Regions from separate parts of the Homo sapiens genome. Here region 1 is linked to region 2. A link means that fine-mapping ties the variant in region 2 to the expression of a gene that starts in the linked region. Tissue or cell type: whole blood. Region 2 holds a variant in brackets; the other region holds the start of a gene. All regions are shown on one strand. Distances are between the middles of the regions. Region 1 holds the start of PCDH1 (protocadherin 1). Region 2 overlaps LOC107986454 (a long non-coding RNA gene).

Region 1 (8,322 bases), 56 kb after region 2:
ACCCGGAAACTTCACTTCCAGCCCACCCCGGGGACCAAGGTCCATTTTGCTGAGTGCTGTGGCCAGAGAAAAAACACACAGAGGCAGCCACCACTGTCCCAGTAGCCAGGTCAGCTCTGACTCCCCACCCTCACCCCAGCACTGTTACACAACGGTCACTGCCGCGGGCACAAAACACCAAGGGACAAACGGACTGTCGCGGGGAGAGGGGAAGAAAATGGGGTTGCGTGGGGTGGAGCTGAACAGAAGCCTCCCACAGAGAGCAAGTGTGCAGACCTCAGCTCCTCTCCCCTCTCTCCCACAACCCTCTATTAGCCTCTGCAGGGCTTCTGGGCACCTGCATGTCAGATCGTTGGGGTTAGAACCCTCGCTCCACCACTTCCTAGCTGTGTGACATTAACCAAGTGAATTTACTTTTCTGAACCTGTTTCCATACTGTGAAATGGAAATAATGAAACCTGCCTCTTGAAATTATTTGGGAGAATTAAATGAGATCTCATGCCTATAAGGTCTATTACATTAAGGTCTATTTACATTACATGTAAAGGACAAATCATTTTTTTTTCTAAGTCTTCTAATTGCTGAATAGACCATTTTATTTCCAGCATCGGGCACACAGTGGGTGCTCCTTGGTTCGATGAATAAACAAGCCAATCCCCTCGCTGGTTGGTAAGTCCTATGAAGGCAATGATGGTATGTCTCTTACTACTGCATCCTCACCACCCACCATGGACCCTGGCAGATAAAAGGTGCTCAATACATTGTTGAACAGAATCTCTGCACCAACTATCCTTGCTCACGGCAGGGGCAGCCCTCACCTTCTTCTTTCCCTACACCCCTCCCCGAACCCTGATTCCCACTTAGCTCCTCCCCCACCCTCGCGGCCCCCTCCTGGCCCTTCAACCCCCTTCTCAGCAATTAGCTTACTATCGCTTGCCCAGCTCCCCTGCAGAAGTAGCCACAGCAGCAGCCCCTCTGCTAAGAAGATGGCAGACCAGCAAGACACCCACTTCCAGCTGAAGTCCCTTTTGGAATTGGGAATTGGAGGTGGGTAGGAGAAGGGGTAAAAACTAAATGCGGCCAGAACTGAATCCAGACTTGCCTCCCTATCACACTGCCTCTGGCTACCTCTGGGGGCCAGTCTGCCTCTCCCCTCGATTCCACCCCATGCCCTAGTCTAGTTGTAATTACAGGTTCCAATTCCCCCAGACCTTAACGTCAATAAAGTAACACCCACCTACTCCCGCGCCCCCCACCCCCTACAAACACAGCTAGACCTCCGGCTTGTCATAAAAACTTTCTGGGCGGCCCCTTCCCTGGCAGCTCCCGAGGGTTGACCCAGAGCAGGTGCTAGAAGCCTCGCGGCGTCTTCCTGCACGAAGCGACCCAAGCAGCCCCAGTCCGCACCGCCTTGGTCAGCGGGCGCTCCCAGCACACACCCAGCGCGCGGAGCGACTCCTCCCAGAGGACGCCGAGTGTGTGTGTGTGTTGCGGAGATTAGGGGGTGGCGGGGGGGACGGCGGCAGTTTCTTGGGCTCTGGCGGCCCCACCCCCACCCCGGCAGCGCCCAGCCTCCAGGAACCCAAGGCAAGGCTAGGGCGCGGCGTGGTGAGAACGCGCTTCGGCTAGTGGGGGGAGCCCTTGCGCCCCCCGCACCCAGGCCACCGCGGGGAATCCCTCCTCCCCGGCATCTCCGGCCTCGGCCTAGGGTCCCCCGCAAGCCGGAGCCGGCGCGAGCGGCGCAGCGGGCGCCAGGAGGGGGCGGGGAGGGAGCCGGCGCCGGAATCACAAAGCCGCGAACCCGGCTAGGCGGGGACATTCTCATAAAACCGACCCTCTCGTGGCGAGCAGAGGGGGTTTTTTGCCCTACGCTCAATCCTCCAAGGCCTCAGTGCCGCCCCCAGTCTTTCCTGGCAGAAGAAATAGTAGCCGACCACTGTTGGGGAAACTGAGGCCAGAATTCTGACTTACAGAGGGTAGCTGGGGGGAAGGGGTGCGAGACCACCTCGCCTACAAATTCTGCTCCTATGCCTGCCGCGATCTCCGTTCTGGCTCCAGGGCCTGCCCGCGCACACACTGGCCTACAGCGGGGACCAGGCGGAGGGGGCGCTCAGGTGTGAGACGAACCCAGGTGTGCGGGACCCACCAAGGTGTGTGGGACCCAGGTGTGCTGGAGACCCAGGTGGCTCAGAAAACTCAGCTAAATGGCTGGAAGAGGGTCGCAATCACCGTCCCAGGCTAGCACCCTCTACAAAGGAACCTGGGGCCCCAGAGCTCCGGGGAGGCGGGATGGCTTGGCCAGCCAGGTCCAGCTTGTTCCCGGAACACCAGCCGGTTCGGCCCGGGAGTGGGGGTTGGGGAGGCGCCGACTGGGAAGCCGGCAGGCCGGCCCAGCCTTCCCGCTGTGCCGATATTTACAATAATAATGTCGCGATTAACGTGGCGGGGCGCTTGGGGCTCGCCGAACGACCCCGGCGGCTTCTCCTGCCTGAATCTGGACTCCGAGAGAGAGGAACGGAGTGTGTGTGTTTGTGTGTATGCGCTGCAGGGTGTAATGTAATGTGACACTGTTGGTTTAAGGTGTGTGTGACACCCAGTGTTAAGATGGGTGAAGCAGTGGATTCTGTGTTTGTGACCGTGAGGCGCTGCTGTAGGTGCCAATTCCTGTGTTAGAGTGTGTGCCATCAAGCGTGTGCTGAGATACTGGGTTGTGTGTTTGTGTGGGTGCAGTAGAGGGGTGCAAGGAGACCTGTGCTGTGTACCTATGTTCTGGCCAAGAAGTGGGTAAGATGATATATGCTAGGGTGTGTTCCTTAAAGGAATGTGGGGGGTGGCTAGGTTTTGAGGGTTCATCTAGTGAACTGTGGCTGTGACACTCGTACATGAGGGCACGAGATTGTGTTTGTGTGTCCACGTCGCGGGGTGTCACACCCGGTTGTGTTATTGCTCTGTAAAGCCACGGGTTGTGTGTCGGTGCTGCTGATCGTGCAGACACTGAAGCGGATTCTGAGCTGGCGACGGTGCCCCAGTGGGCGCTGGTGTGCGGGAGGTATGTCTGTGTGCACATATGCAGGGATGTATGTATGTGTGTATATATGTCCACGGTCTGGCCCTCTGGGTGCCCGCGAGAAGCTGGAAGCGGCTGAGTGAGCCGAGGTAGTTGCCCAACAAGTGTGTATGTATGTGTTGTGGACAACGGTCCTTGCTTGCTCCGTCCTCCGGGAGACCCCCACCAAACTGGGGGCCGCGCGCTTCCCCAAACCCATCCTCCACGCCGCGCGCTCCTGGAGTCTCCTTATCCCCGTCTCTCCGAGCGCGCCCAGGTTTGGGACGCGGGGACTAGGGTTCTGCTCAGCACCCCCTCCCCTCCCTCGGCTTCTCGCCGCGGACCTGGGAGGACGGAATCCCTCAGCCGCATCCCCTGCTATGGGCTCCCAGCAGCCCCCACCTCAGCCCCCTCGCGCCGAGCTCGTGTTGGGCCCCCGCGGCCTCGCTCCGCCGAGCGCCCCTCCCTCAGCTCCCGCCGGCCATGACCGCTTCGGGCCCCAAGCCGCTGCTGCCTCCACCGCCGCCGGATCCTTACCCGCCTCCGGGCAGCGCCGGCCGCCCGCCCCGCTGTCCATGAGCCGCCGCCGGCCCCGGCCTGGGCTGCGGCTCCGCACGGCTGGGGCTGGAGCTGCAGTTCGGGCTCCGGCTCCGGCTCCGGCTGGCTCTGGGCGCAGCAGCCCGGCGGCTTTGCGTCCGCGCCGCGCTCCCGCTCCCCGAGTGTGTGAGGCGGCGGCGGCGGCGGCGGCGGCGGCGGCGGCGGCGGCGGAGCCAGCAGAGAGCGGAGCGCACAGCCCGGCCCGCCCCCTCCCTCCCCCCTCCCTCCCGGCCCGCCCGCCTCCCCGCCCCCCCTCCGGCCGGGAGGTGGAGCTCGGGACCGCTCCGGTCCGGCTGGGAGGGGACCCCGAGCACCGCTCCCCAAAGCCTGGACCCCTCCCTCTGCCATCTCTTCACTGCCCGAGGCCCAGTACACAGGCCGTGCCCTCCTCTGAGCTTCACCTTACACTTATCCCACCCAAGCCTCCATCTAGGACCGCTCCTGGATTCCCCTCCTTACCCTACTCAAACACCTGTCCCCAGCTCTGTCTGCCCCCTGGGAAGTCGAGGCAAGGGAAGTGTCTCCCACAGCGCCTTCTTCCCTGGGCACCTGCTCCTCCATATCCACCCTCTTCCCGCCCAGATCCCCGATCGCCCTGTGTGGCCCTCCCTTCCCGCTGCGCTCGGGGAAAGTCCACCCCTCCCCCTCCGGCCGAAGCCGCAGAGCGGTCAGCCTCGGTGGCCGCAGCAAGCCGTGGGGGTGGGGCTATGGAGGGGACCGTGGGAGGAGGAGGCTAATGGGACCCGGGGGCTCTAGAGTGAGGATGGGGAAGATACACAAGCGTGAAGACGAAGTGCTGCTCCTGAGCTTAGGCTATTCGAGGGTCCCCTGATCACCTGCCCTCTGCACGGCGTAGTGCTGCGGCCACACGTATTTGCCAGTGACTTACATTATACAGTCACCGGGTCCCTGCCCCGCGAGGCCGCGCAGTGTCACGGCCTGTGTCACACGCCCTCGCAGTGCCACACGCTCCCTATCACACTCACACCAAATCACACACGGTGTCACACGCAGTGTCTCACACACTCCAATACTCGGTTTCTCCCATTCAGCTCTGGCTCTCTGGCGCCATCTAGAGGTCTCTGAGTAGCTTGGGAACTCCCTCTCCTGCGCTTGCGGTTTGGTAACCCAGGCTACCAAGTGTCCCAGTTCAACAGGACCTCCTGCCTTCTTCGCCTGCAGGCCCAGGCAGAGTGTTCTAGGTCAAAAGAATGAGGAAGGTTATCCCTAGCCAGGCCTAGTGCTGGGTGAGGAAAGGCTCTTGTTATGGGATGACCAGTTGTTGGGCCTCTTTTTGCCATAGCCTCTGACTCCCCATCTCTGTCCTTCCCCATTTTCCTGTTCCTACCACTCTTCTGTGCCTTTCCTCTTTCTTCTACTTCCTTCTCTTCTCAGCTCTGGCCTCTCTCGGTGGGATGCTCTTCAGGGTAAAAGTGGAATCTCTGGTTAGCTAAGAGGGCAAGCAAAGTCTGTCCAAGATCTCTCCCAGAGCAGCCCTGCTTAACTGGACTCCTTTTCTGACCTGGGCTCTGCTCTATCCCTCAGCCCCAGGAGCCCAGGGGCAGGGCTCTAGATGGGAGATGGGGTAATCTGGTGAAAGAGGGGGGTGGGTCTGTTCTGTAAGTAGCTTCTTTCTGTCTCTAGAAAGCTCATACTCTCCACATCATTGAGCACAGCTCCGAGGAGGGAATCAGTGGCCCAGAGAGAAGAAATCTTCCACAGAAGAGCTGCCCCGGTCTCCCTGCCCCCAGCGTGTGCCCGCTGCCCAATGCAGCAAACCCTCCCCAGTCTGCTTGCTGGGAGCCATTCAAAGGCTCCTCTGTTCTCCTCCCTTGCTCAGGGCTGAGCAGGATCAGCAGCCGCAGAGCTGGGCAGGAAATGCTAATCTCCCAGATGTTCGCCTCCATCCTCCCTGCTCCACCACCATCAAACTCAAATTCTGCACCAAGTGGTAGGAGCAGAACTGGGCCACAGCAGCAGCACCAGGGTGTGCCTACTCTTCTCCCTGCTCCCCAGCCCCTCCTACCCCAGCTGCCAGGCTGGGCTCTGTGCCCCTGAGTCAGGGACAATGTAGATATGAGAATTGGGGCCTTTTTTCCCCAGGAAAGAGGGCAGGTGAGCAAGCAGGGACTGGGAGGATGGTTGGGGAGCAAGGGAGGTGGCATTTGAAGAGGAGAGAAGTCAGACTTCTGGCCCTGTACCAAAGTGGGAGGAGGACCTGCTTGGCAAGTGAAGCACTGGGGGAGGCTCCTGAAACTGATGGTGCCTGAGTTCCAGCTGAGACTGTGGCCAGGGATTGGAACCAGGGTGATGCTGGGTATGGGAATGGTTGGGGTGCTTGCTGTGATATCCGTGTACCTGGGATGGGCTGTGGCTAAGTGAACTAGGATGCTGTAGGGCCTGGAACTGTAACACCAAGGCTGCTGCCTCTGATTGTACTTAGGACACTGTTGCAGTGCTCTGATGCTGGTGTGCCTAGGCTATAGCCAATAAGATTACCTGAGAAACTATCGCCAAGCTGTGTGTATATGGGTGTGTGTGTGCATGTTGAGGGAGAACTGTAACTGATAAGCTGTTGGGCCTGAAGCTATAGATATGAGGCTGGCACACCTGAGACTGGCTGTAGCTGAGAAGCTGTTCCCTGTTAATATGATGTAGATGGGACTGTAACTGGATCCATTGCCTAGGTCCTAGGAGATGAGAGGCTGTTGCGAGGAGCCTGTACCTGGGAGACAGGCTGTTACCTGGGATAGGAGCAGAGCTACTGTTGTGTATAGGACTGTAGCTGAGCTGCTATTGGTCCTGGAGCTGTAGCTGTGATGACAGCATACTGGGGATTGGCTATAGCTAAGATGCTGTTGCTCAGAATTGTGGTTGGGCTGTTACTGTGTGCTGGACTCTAGCTGGGATGCCTGCAGCTATAACTTTAAAGCTTGGGTGTAGCTAGGAGGCCATTTCCTGGTAATTTTGCTGGACCATTGTTGTGTGGGGGCTGTGGCTGAGACTCTATTGTTTAGGAGATGACAAGCTGTTCTGGGAGGCAGGATACTACCTGAGATGGAAGCTGATGTACTGTTGGAGCTGATCTACTGTTGTGCATAGGGTGGTCCCCAAGTGGCTGTTGCTGGGTCAGTGACGAGCTGGGTGGGGGAAGCCAAGTGAGTCCTGCCTTGAGGTCTGGGAGATGCCAGGAGCTCTAGGCTGGGTGGGGGCTGCTGCTCTGGGGAGGCCTCAGCAGCTGCTCTGCTGTGGAGCTGGAAAGCCTGTTTTCATTACTGTTTTAACTCTTTTTTTAACCTTGTTTTTCTCTCGGCTGCACTTTCGCTCACTCATTAATTTTGGTATTTTTCTCACGGTGCCTCAGCCCCTGTCACGGCTGCCATGGCAACAGGAGGCAGTGTGCTCAGTGCCAAAATATCTGATCAAAAAATAACCAAAATAAGCAAACACCAAGACGACTGTTCTGGGGACTATGGTCAGGGAGAGCCGATGGCTCAGATCCAGGAAACCCTAGGCTCCAGGGTACCTGTTTCACTACCCCTCTCCCCCAGGGAAGCTTTGCTGAACGTTCTGATAACCTAGAAGGCCCCTTTCCAAGGAATCCCCCACAGCACAATCTCCCAGGACTCTGAGATTTCCAATAGTTCCTGTCCAAGGGGCAGCTTTGCCTGAGGTGGGAGCATCGGGAGAGGGTGAGGGCTGGGGATCACTTCCCAGGAGCTGGCAGATGAAGCTTCTAAGAAGCTCCCTCCCTGCCCTAGCCACAAGCATCCGCACTCACTCATTCACCCACCCCTCTTCTGGCCCTTCTTGCCTTAGGCTTATCTCCCTTTCTGTGCACCCAACCCCCACTAGGCCACTTTTGTTTTCTCATAGCCCAACGTTCTGATGGGATGAACAGAGGGGAGGAAGCTGACAGTCTCCAGCCCCCTACCAACTCCTCAGTGGAGGTGCCAGAGAGGGGTACCATAAAAGTAGCTGACATTCCGAGGCCTCTGCCCACCTCTAGCTCACCTTCCTAGGGGAGATTCCTGAACATCCCTGACCACTCACACCGCACTCCAATTTTCCCTCCCACTTCTTGGGAGCCTTCTAGTTCCCTGGAGACCTCCTCTCAAGTGGGCATGTCCCCAGGAGGGGTAAAAGGATAGAGCCTCACATAAGTTAGAAATGGGCAGAGCTCTTGGTACTACCTGTCTCTTTTCCTTCTTCATCCACCACTTTCCCCTCTGAGGAGGCTTGTCTAGATGTCTGGAGCACTGGGAATTGGGGGAATGAGGAGGAGCCCCTCAACTCTGTCTCAGTCACATCACTTAATCACACCTCTCCTTCTGCCCCACCCCTCTGGCAGTGAAGGCTCACTCCCAACAGATCTCCACCCGCTTCCGGGAATGGCCAGAACTCGCCTCCTGCGTCTCTCTTTCCATTTCTATCTTCCCCTCCCCCCAAGAGCTGTAGTGGCCTTGGCCTCCTGGCAGTGCCTTCCCAGCCTGTTTCCATAGAAACTGGGTAGGCTGTGCAGTGCAAGAATCGGAGGGGAGACAGGAGCAGGAAGGAGGGACCAAGCCTTAGGGACAGCCCCCGATGAAAGGACCGAGAGAAACGGGGAGCTGCCCCATGCAAACTGAGGGTGGGACCCCGATTTGGGGAACCAGGCGGGATGGAGCGTGGAGTGGGGG
Region 2 (8,322 bases):
TGGGATTGGAGGCCAGTGGGTGGGGTTGTAAGACTGTAGGTCTCAGTGAGGAGGTTGGCATGATTCTAACAGCAATGGAAAGATACAAATGTGTACGTGCAATAAAAGCTGATTGACATTTGCCTCAGAATGACACAGATTCCTAGAGTCACTGGCCCAAAGCAATTCTTCCGAGCTTTTGCACTTGCTGTGCCCTCTGCCTGGAATGCTCTGTTTCCAGATTTTTTCTGAGGCTGATTTGTTCTCATCATTTAGGTCTTGACCCAAACCACTCGTCCTAAAGGAGCTCCCTCTACATGCACTGTTGCTCTCTATCCCTTTATCTTGTTTTATTATTTTTACAGCACTTTCACGATCTAAAACTAAATTGTTAATTTCTTTGCTTTACTGTTACTCTTTCCACTCGCTAGAAAAAAAGCTCAGTATGGGCAGGAATTTTGCCTTAGCGACTACCACATTCTAGCGTCGGCATTGTGCTAGCCCACAGTAGGGCCTCAATAAATAATAAATGAACAAATGAATGAATTACTGAATACACACCAAGATAAAAGGGCCAGTATTTACCCACAAACATACACATATAAATGTATGGTTATTCATGGGCAAGTGCATGAGTACCCACGGTGACTCAGAGATTTCCCTCGCCCACAAGGACCACCTCTCAAGGGGCCTTTTAGGCAATCCAGAGCCTGTACAGTTCATTGCCCTAGTCTAGCTAATCAATATACACCTCCTCTGGCTGGATGAGGACCTGCACAAGCAGACCTGTCTCAGGTCAGCCATTGGTTAATCAAAGACGAGGGTGGAATTTAAAGTGCCCTATGGAGGGGCAGTGAAAACAGATTGATCCATGTGGCCTGGACACAGTAAAACCCCTTACAGGCTCCATTTATTTCCCACCTCTCATCTCCCCTCTCCTCCTGGGGCCCCAGCCCATCTTCCACTGCTCCCCATTTCCCACTCTACTGGAAGTGGCTGAACCAGGCATTGTGTGGGACTCAGGACAAATAGATTAGAATTTAGTGGGGTTTTACAGGGTTTGGGAATTTGACTAGGTGGGCAATATTTTAAACAAGCATTTATTGTCTTAGCAAGTACCTACTAAGTGCAAAGCTTGGCTAGGGACTGCCAGATTCATTACATAATAGCTGATTCAGGGCAGACTGTGAAAAATGATTTAGTCAGAAACCCTAAAGGTGGAATCCCTGTGTTCCCAAGGTACATGTCAGAGTGGGACACAGTTAATTCCCAGTTGGGGAGCTCTGGGATAGCTTACTAGAGTATCATTCTAAATAACTACCACTTTAATAGAGCACTTACTGTGTAAGCACATTTTACATGTGACCTTTCTGATTTAATCCTCACTCTTAAGCCTCTGGGTATGTGTGATTGCTATTATTATCCCATTTACAGATGGGGAGACTAAGGCTCAGGGAGGATTAAGCGAGTTGCCCAAATTTTCCACAGCTATTAAGCGGCAGAGTAGATTTTCAAGCTCAAGAGGAGACGCCAGAGTCCCTGCTCTGGGACCCCACCATGACAATGGCTATAGCTGTGCCTTGACGCAAAGGTAGGACTTACTTAGGTGGGAAGATAGGAGAAGTCCATTCTAGGAAGAGGACACAGTTTGAGAAAAAGCTGATAGGCAACGGTGCCAGAAGTTTTTCTGTGTGTGTATGGATTTTGTTTGTTTGTTTGTTTGAGACTGAGTTTCGCTCTGTGGCCCAGGCTAGAGTGCAGTGGTGCGATCTCAGCTCGCTGTAACCTCCGCCTCCCAGGTTAAAACGATTCTCCTGCCTCAGCCTCCTGCGTAGCTGGGATTACAGGCATGCGCCACCATGCCCGGCTAATTTTTTGTATGTTTAATAGAGTCAGGGTTTCACCATGTTGGCCAGACTGGTCTCCAACTCTTGACCTCAAGTGATCCGTCCGCCTCGGCCTCCCAACGTGCTGGGATTACAGGCATGAGCCACCGCGCCCAGCCTAGATGTTTTTTAAAACTTTCTGGTAGCTGGTCAGGTGTGGTGACTCACACCTGTAATCCCAGCACTTTGGCAGGCTGAGGCAGGCGAATCACCTGAGGTCGGGAGTTTGAGACCAGCCTGGCCAACATGGAGAAACCCCGTCTCTACTAAAAATACAAAATTAGCCAGGCGTGGTGGCGCATGCCTGTAATCCCAGCTACTCGTGAGGCTGAGGCAGGAGAATCGTTTGAACCCGGGAGGCGGAGGTTGCGGTGAGCAGAGATTGCGCCATTGAACTCCAGCCTGGGCAACAAGAGCGAAACTTCGTCAAAAAAAAAAAAAAAAGAAAAATCTCTGGTAGCCTGAGGTCCTAGGAGATTTAAAACAACAACAACAAAAATAACAAAAACAAACAAAAAACAACTATTGCTGACTTTTTTCTCTATCTGGTCTTTAGGATATTAGCCCCAGGATGGATTCTTGCCCTGGGTGTGTCTTTCTCTAGTTCCCAAACAGAATTTTATCCAAAGGTGGATGATAGGGGGTGAGGGTGCAGTATTTTTGGTGAATTGGTCTTCTCCCTACCCTGGCTGGGATGGGGGCCACTTGGGGACACTTTCCAGGCCCAGCTGGTCCTCTGCCCATCTGCATCCCTGCCTCCTGACTCATTTCATTCCAACCAATAGAGTCTTAGCATGCAAATTTAATGAATAGGCAAAGAAATGATTGGCTCATTTTCCCTGATGTAATAATGCCACTATTCAAGTAACTCCTATGAACCCTACCCCCACCCCAGTTCAGGGCATTTGATCATGTTCTGGCAAGAATCCCCAACTCCTGTTTTCCCTTTTTTTCCCCATTCTGAGTTAGCGAATCACTTCAAAATGCCCGACTCATCTCTCCAGGGGTGGGATGTCTGGAGGGCCAGGAAGCCACCCTTAGGCCTGAACCACTGCCATCTTTCTGGGAGGCCCCTTATGCCTCTGCGGACTGTGGGTAGCATCAAATCCAGGATAACAGAGCCCATTTACTAAGACGTTTTGCGAGAATCCATGTCCAAAGCCTTCCTGAAACCAAACCCCAGCATATCGGCTGTTCCTTTCAGCCCCTAATTTAGTAATTCTATTGAGAAAAAGAGATTGTGGGTTTTTTTATTTGGTGTGATTTATTCTTTATCATATAAATAATAATAATTTACACAAAGCTCATCCCCAAACAGAAGAGAATCTGTACATAAAAATAAACAAAAATTAAACTGAGCTGGGCCTGGTGCCCAGAAAACCAGCCAATTCCAAACACAACCAGGGGGAACAAATTCTCCAGGTCCTGGGAGCTCTGGGGCCTTGGCTGGAATTCTGGGTGGAGACTCTGGTCCGGGAAGCCATTGCCCTCTTTCCTGTACATCCTGTGCCGGATGATGGCACATCTGGCAGCCAACACTCATGGACAGCCAACCAGCAAGCTCACTGGGTTGGGAGGTGGGTGGGACTTGAGCTTAAGGGAAGAATCAGTTTTAAAACTCCTGGGCAGTGTTGCTTGCTTCTGGCTTCCCCAGGGGCTGTGAGAGATACTGTGGCTGGGGAGATGGGTGTTGGCCACCATCCAAAGGGGTGGAAGCTGCCTATGGCTCCATCTTTCTCCTGTAGCTCCTTAGAGGCATGAGTTGGACAGAGTACCCACTGGTCTTCTTTTCCCTTGGAGCTCTAGCTCCCTCTCTGGAGGCTCGTTATTTCTTATAGATATTGAAAGATGACAAGCAATCTTCTTGGCCATTGATTAATTTCCCTCAGCAGGCACTCTTTGGCTGTTCGAAACTTCTCCTTCACCACCTCCATCTTATTGCAGAAAAATCTCTTAAGAAGAAGACTGCCTTC[C/G]ACATTCTGGTTTCGTACCTTTACTTACAAAGGGAGGAGTATATGTGGCTTAAACTGCTGTTTGGTTTGACTGTAAGCCCCATCCTCCCATCCCAAGGCAGGGGTTAGATCTGCATTGGTCTATAGGTACACAGTCATTTGCAATTAGAGACTTTATAAATGGTGAAGTTGATCATGATAGTGAACGCGATAAGGCTAAGATGGTGATGGAGAAGATAAAAGGAAAAGGGATTTTGATAGCAGTGCTGAGCCTGCCCTTGTGTCTGGGGTGATTATCTGGCTTAGCCTGAAATGAGAAATTGTGAAGGTGGTGGTGAAAGCTAAGGACAGGAGAAGAGGAAAGTGAAGGTAAATGTGTCCAGGTACAGGTGAAGCTTCCAGAGAAGAGAGGTAGCACAGCCCAGTGGTTAGGAGTCTAGATTCTGGGGCAGGACATTCTGGTTTCAAATTCTAGCTCGACCACATACTAGCTTAGGGAAGTATTTAACCTCTCTGAGCCTCAGCCTCCCCAGCTGTAAAATGGGAATCATAACAGTACCTGCCTCAGAGGGTGGCTCATGGTAAGCGCTGTATGAGCATGTGCAACCTAAGGTATAGGTGGGATTACAGTTACAGCCAGAGGAAGGGCCACAAAGCACAGCAAGCAGCACTGGGAAGATTCAGGAGATCTCGATCAGGCCCCATCACAGTCCTGTGTGACTTTCCCCATCTGGGCCTCAGGTGCCTTGTCAAAGGAGAGTTGAAGTAAATAATATTCAGCCCTCAGAAAGTCCCCTTGGGCAGCAAAGCTCTGTATGCATGACTGGTAATTGTCCTGTGGGAACATCCAGCCCCAGAAAGGACTCTACAAGTCTTTAGGTCCAGGTGTAGATTCAGCAGGCATGCTTGTGTCAGGGGTCAAACCGAGGGAGTTGCTGAGCCCGTTGAAACAGCCTCCTTTTAGGGGTAATAGAAAGATGAGAGGTGAGTTCTTGCCTGGGAGAGGAGGCTCCAGCTGTCCCTCTCTCCAAGGAAGCGGCTGGGCTCCAAAGTACAGCCTGATGGGGCTGAGCCGCCGATCCTGGTTGTACTGTGACTGCAGCCATGTTGGCATCTGCTCCCAAGTTTGGGCACATGAGGGGTTTCACTACCAGAACCAGCCTTTTCCAGTTCTGCCCCTTGTTTGCATTCTTGAGTTTTTTCCTACCCCCTGGGGTTAAAGGACAGGAGGGATAGAAAGGGCACTCATGCCCTGTGCCAAATTAAATCTTTATAGACCCCCTTCTCTAGGCCTTGTCTAAGGATGTCAGAGCCCTCTAAAGTCCCCCAAGCCAACAGGAGGCTATCAGAGGCTGCAGGGCAGGAACTGGCCACAGGATGTTTTCCTTTTATTCTGCCCTAGAAGAAACCCGGCTTCAGGTTCATTGCTCCCTGAAAATCAGGGGTAAGGAATGGAGTTTGGCCTTCAGTACCCAGGGGGCTTCATCAGTCCCTCACCTCTTCTCCTGACAAGCCCTTCAGCCACTCTTCCACCTGAAGGAGGGAGAAGAGCCCTGCTGTGTCCTGAATTCCAATCCTGGGAACTGTCACTCACATGGTCTCTGGTCCCAGCCTGAATTTAATCCAAGAGCGGAGGCCTGCCTGGTCCCAATCAACCTAGGCACGGGGGATCATGGGCTATGTGTGTGCATTTGGTTGGTGCTTAGAAGATATAATACAAATATTAGCAATCCACTTGAACTCTTACTCTGTCAGGCTTTACGCTAGATGTTCCACATGCATCACTTTACTGAATCCTTATTTCAGAGTAAGAAACAGGCTCAGAGAAGTTAGGTCACTTATTCAAGGTCACACAGTTAGAAAGCTTCAGAGTCTAGATTTGTGGACCTCTCTGATTCCAAAGGCTGTGCTCTTATTCACTGAGCTTTGCAACATGTACCTGGATGAACATGAGGTCTCCCGCCTGACACTCAGTTTACTAACAATGTGTGCTGAGGACAGTGTAGTGGGCCAAGGGGGGCCACCCTCAGGCCTCAGATCCACCTTCCCACCCATGATCTCCTGTCTACCTAAGAGTGTCCAGGGATACTCCCAGAAAAGCTGGAACAGAGACCAGAGCCATGCCGATGCCTCAAGGAGGCAGCCAAGTCTTTGCTGAGTCTGCAAATCCTCATCTCTAGGCCCCCCATGAGCTCGTTTTGAGAACTCCCCCAATACCTCTCCCAGCCCCTGCTCCCTCCATCAAAGTGACCCTCCAACCCCTCTTTCTTTTCTCTCCTACCTCCAAAGTATTCCCTGCAGCACCCCCAGGTTCCCTTCTTCCTGAAGCCCAGACCTGTAGGGTTAGACTGGTCCAGGCTGCAAATCTCCCAGTTGAGCTTCTTTTTGGGGTCACAGCTTCAGAAGCATCTCTGCATCTTGCCTGTACTTTGATAAATCGTATGAAAACCTGAGTCTCTTCGCTTCTCCTCTGGAACCCCCTCCTCCCTGCAACTTCTCTCTGCTCAGCAGCTGCACAATGCAGTCAGAGGGAAGGGGGTGGACTGGCAGAAACCAGCTTGTTTCTGAGGCTGGAAAACAGAACTGTAGGAAATTAACAGGCTGAGAAATGTCTGCTCGGCTCCGCATTTGTTTTGCACCCTCAGTCTTTCTCTCTGCAGCTCTCTCCTCCTGCCCCTGCCCCTCTCCCACTCCCTGCCGCTCAGTGTGGGCACCTGGGGCTTGGCGGCTCTGTGTCTGGGCCTTGCAGGAAGGTGCATCTTCGTGTGTGTGTGGGAGTGTGTGCATGTGTGTGTGTGTTTCTCTGTGTGTGTTTAGGGATGGCAGACCTGCCCCTCCTTCAGAGGCAGCTTAGCCAGAAACGCCAGCGGCAGAGACAACTGTGCGGGTGGGGATGCTGAGCGCAGAGCCGGCAGAGCCCGCGGGCAGGCAGAGAAGCACCACACAAGAAATTGATTCCATTAAAAAGTAATCTTAAATTTAATAAAAGTTATGATTTGTTTATAGCCACAGAACCTACAGGCAAGAGGGAAGGGGGGTAGATTCTAGTGATGGATAAACAGAAAGAAAAAAAAAATAAGAGAGGGGGAGGGGAGGAGTGAGAGATGCTTAGGTTTGGATGGATGAGAGGATGGAAAGACCTGGGGGTGGGGAACGAGACCATTTTCTCTCCCTCAGATGGAAGAAAAAAGCCTGTGGCTGGATTCCAAAGAGGAAGCAAGAGTGAGGAGTGAGTGAGGAGATTCAAGGAGCTCTCGGGAGATGGAGCTGTTGGAGGGGGCTGGGGACATGCAGGCACGGCCTGGGAGAGGCAGATGTGCAGGAGGGACGGTCTGGAGCCCTGGGAGGGCAGGTAAGGAACGCAAAGCACCCATTCAGCAGTCAGACAGGCAGTCCTGGGTTTCCACTCCAAGTCAACCTCTTCCTAGCAGTGTAACTTGACTTCTCAGATCTTCATCCTTTTCATTGGCCAAATGGAGCCACAGAGATAGTGCCTACCTAACGAGGTGGTCGTGAGAATGAATGAAATTGTACAGGTGCATCTCCTGGGTGCCCAGTAAAGGACAGCTCCCTTCCTGACCCTCCCCGGATGGAGGTCATTACCCCAACACTGCCCCCTCCTGTTTATTTGCAAGCAATGGCCAATCCTACTCCTTTCTTTTATTCTTTTTGCAATGGAGGGGACTGAGTGGCCTTCATCTCCAATCTCAATCTGGAGGCTGGTTCTCCTGGGTAGTCGCATACTTTGTCCTTTGCCCACCTCTCTAGAGCATGAAGAGGGCATGGGCAAGGCGCTCTAGAGCCCACTTCCACTATGAGCTAAGGGACCATCTAGGGGACACATTCCCTCGCCTAATCTGCCACCCCCTACCCTGCTTTTTCTCTCTCCCTCAGCCTAGAATCATGTGTAAACACAGAGCTGAAATTCTCCTGACCCCTGAGAAGTGTCCCTTGGGTGAGACTGCCCAGGTACAGCCCCTTGGCCACCATAATCAGGTCCTGTTGGGTAGAACATTTGGCTTTCAGGCAAGTCTCCTGTTGTTCCTTCCAATGAGCCTGGGCCCTGTCTCTAGGCCGGCTGGGAGGGAGCTAGGACCTGCAGGGTCAGCACCAGAACTGGTGATTGGGGCCTAGGCAGGAAGCCAGGACATCACTGTGAGATGCTATGTGAGGCGAGAGCCAGAAGATCTCAGCTATCCCAGAGTCCAGGGACTGAGAACCAGGAAAAATCGTCACAGCAACAGGAGTCTCCTGGGGAAGCAAGAAATCATTCTGAGGATAACACGGCCAGTTCTACTCAGTCATCTCCTCCTACCTGGGCTGCTTTTAGCAAAGTACCTCCACCTGAGTTCACTCTTGCCTCGTGGCATGTTAAAGGCACCTGCTGGTTGGAGACATTGAGGAAGACAGGACAGGTGGTATTAGCATCTTCATTTTACTGATGAAGAAACCGAGGTCAGAAAGGGAAAGCTACTGTCCCCAGGCCACACAGCATGTAATATATG

Evidence for each region.
Region 1: it holds the start of PCDH1, and the variant in region 2 is fine-mapped to the expression of PCDH1 in whole blood (INTERVAL, PIP above 0.99).

The regions. Positions count from the first base shown.
Region 1 is chr5:141,874,640-141,882,961 of GRCh38, forward strand. It overlaps PCDH1 (protocadherin 1), which reads right to left and starts at 3,771. Exons shown (of 5, transcript NM_032420.5): 1 at 3,584-3,771. The coding sequence starts at 3,623. RefSeq lists enhancers at 2,069-2,753, 3,020-3,769, 7,799-8,322.
Region 2 is chr5:141,818,940-141,827,261 of GRCh38, forward strand. LOC107986454 (a long non-coding RNA gene) reads right to left here. Exons shown (of 3, transcript XR_001742906.2): 1 at 2,550-8,322. Among named protein-coding and RNA genes, the nearest start is that of PCDH1, 55 kb to the right of the region's middle. RefSeq lists enhancers at 4,100-4,600, 6,404-7,092. The variant C/G (reference allele first, on the strand shown) is at 3,839.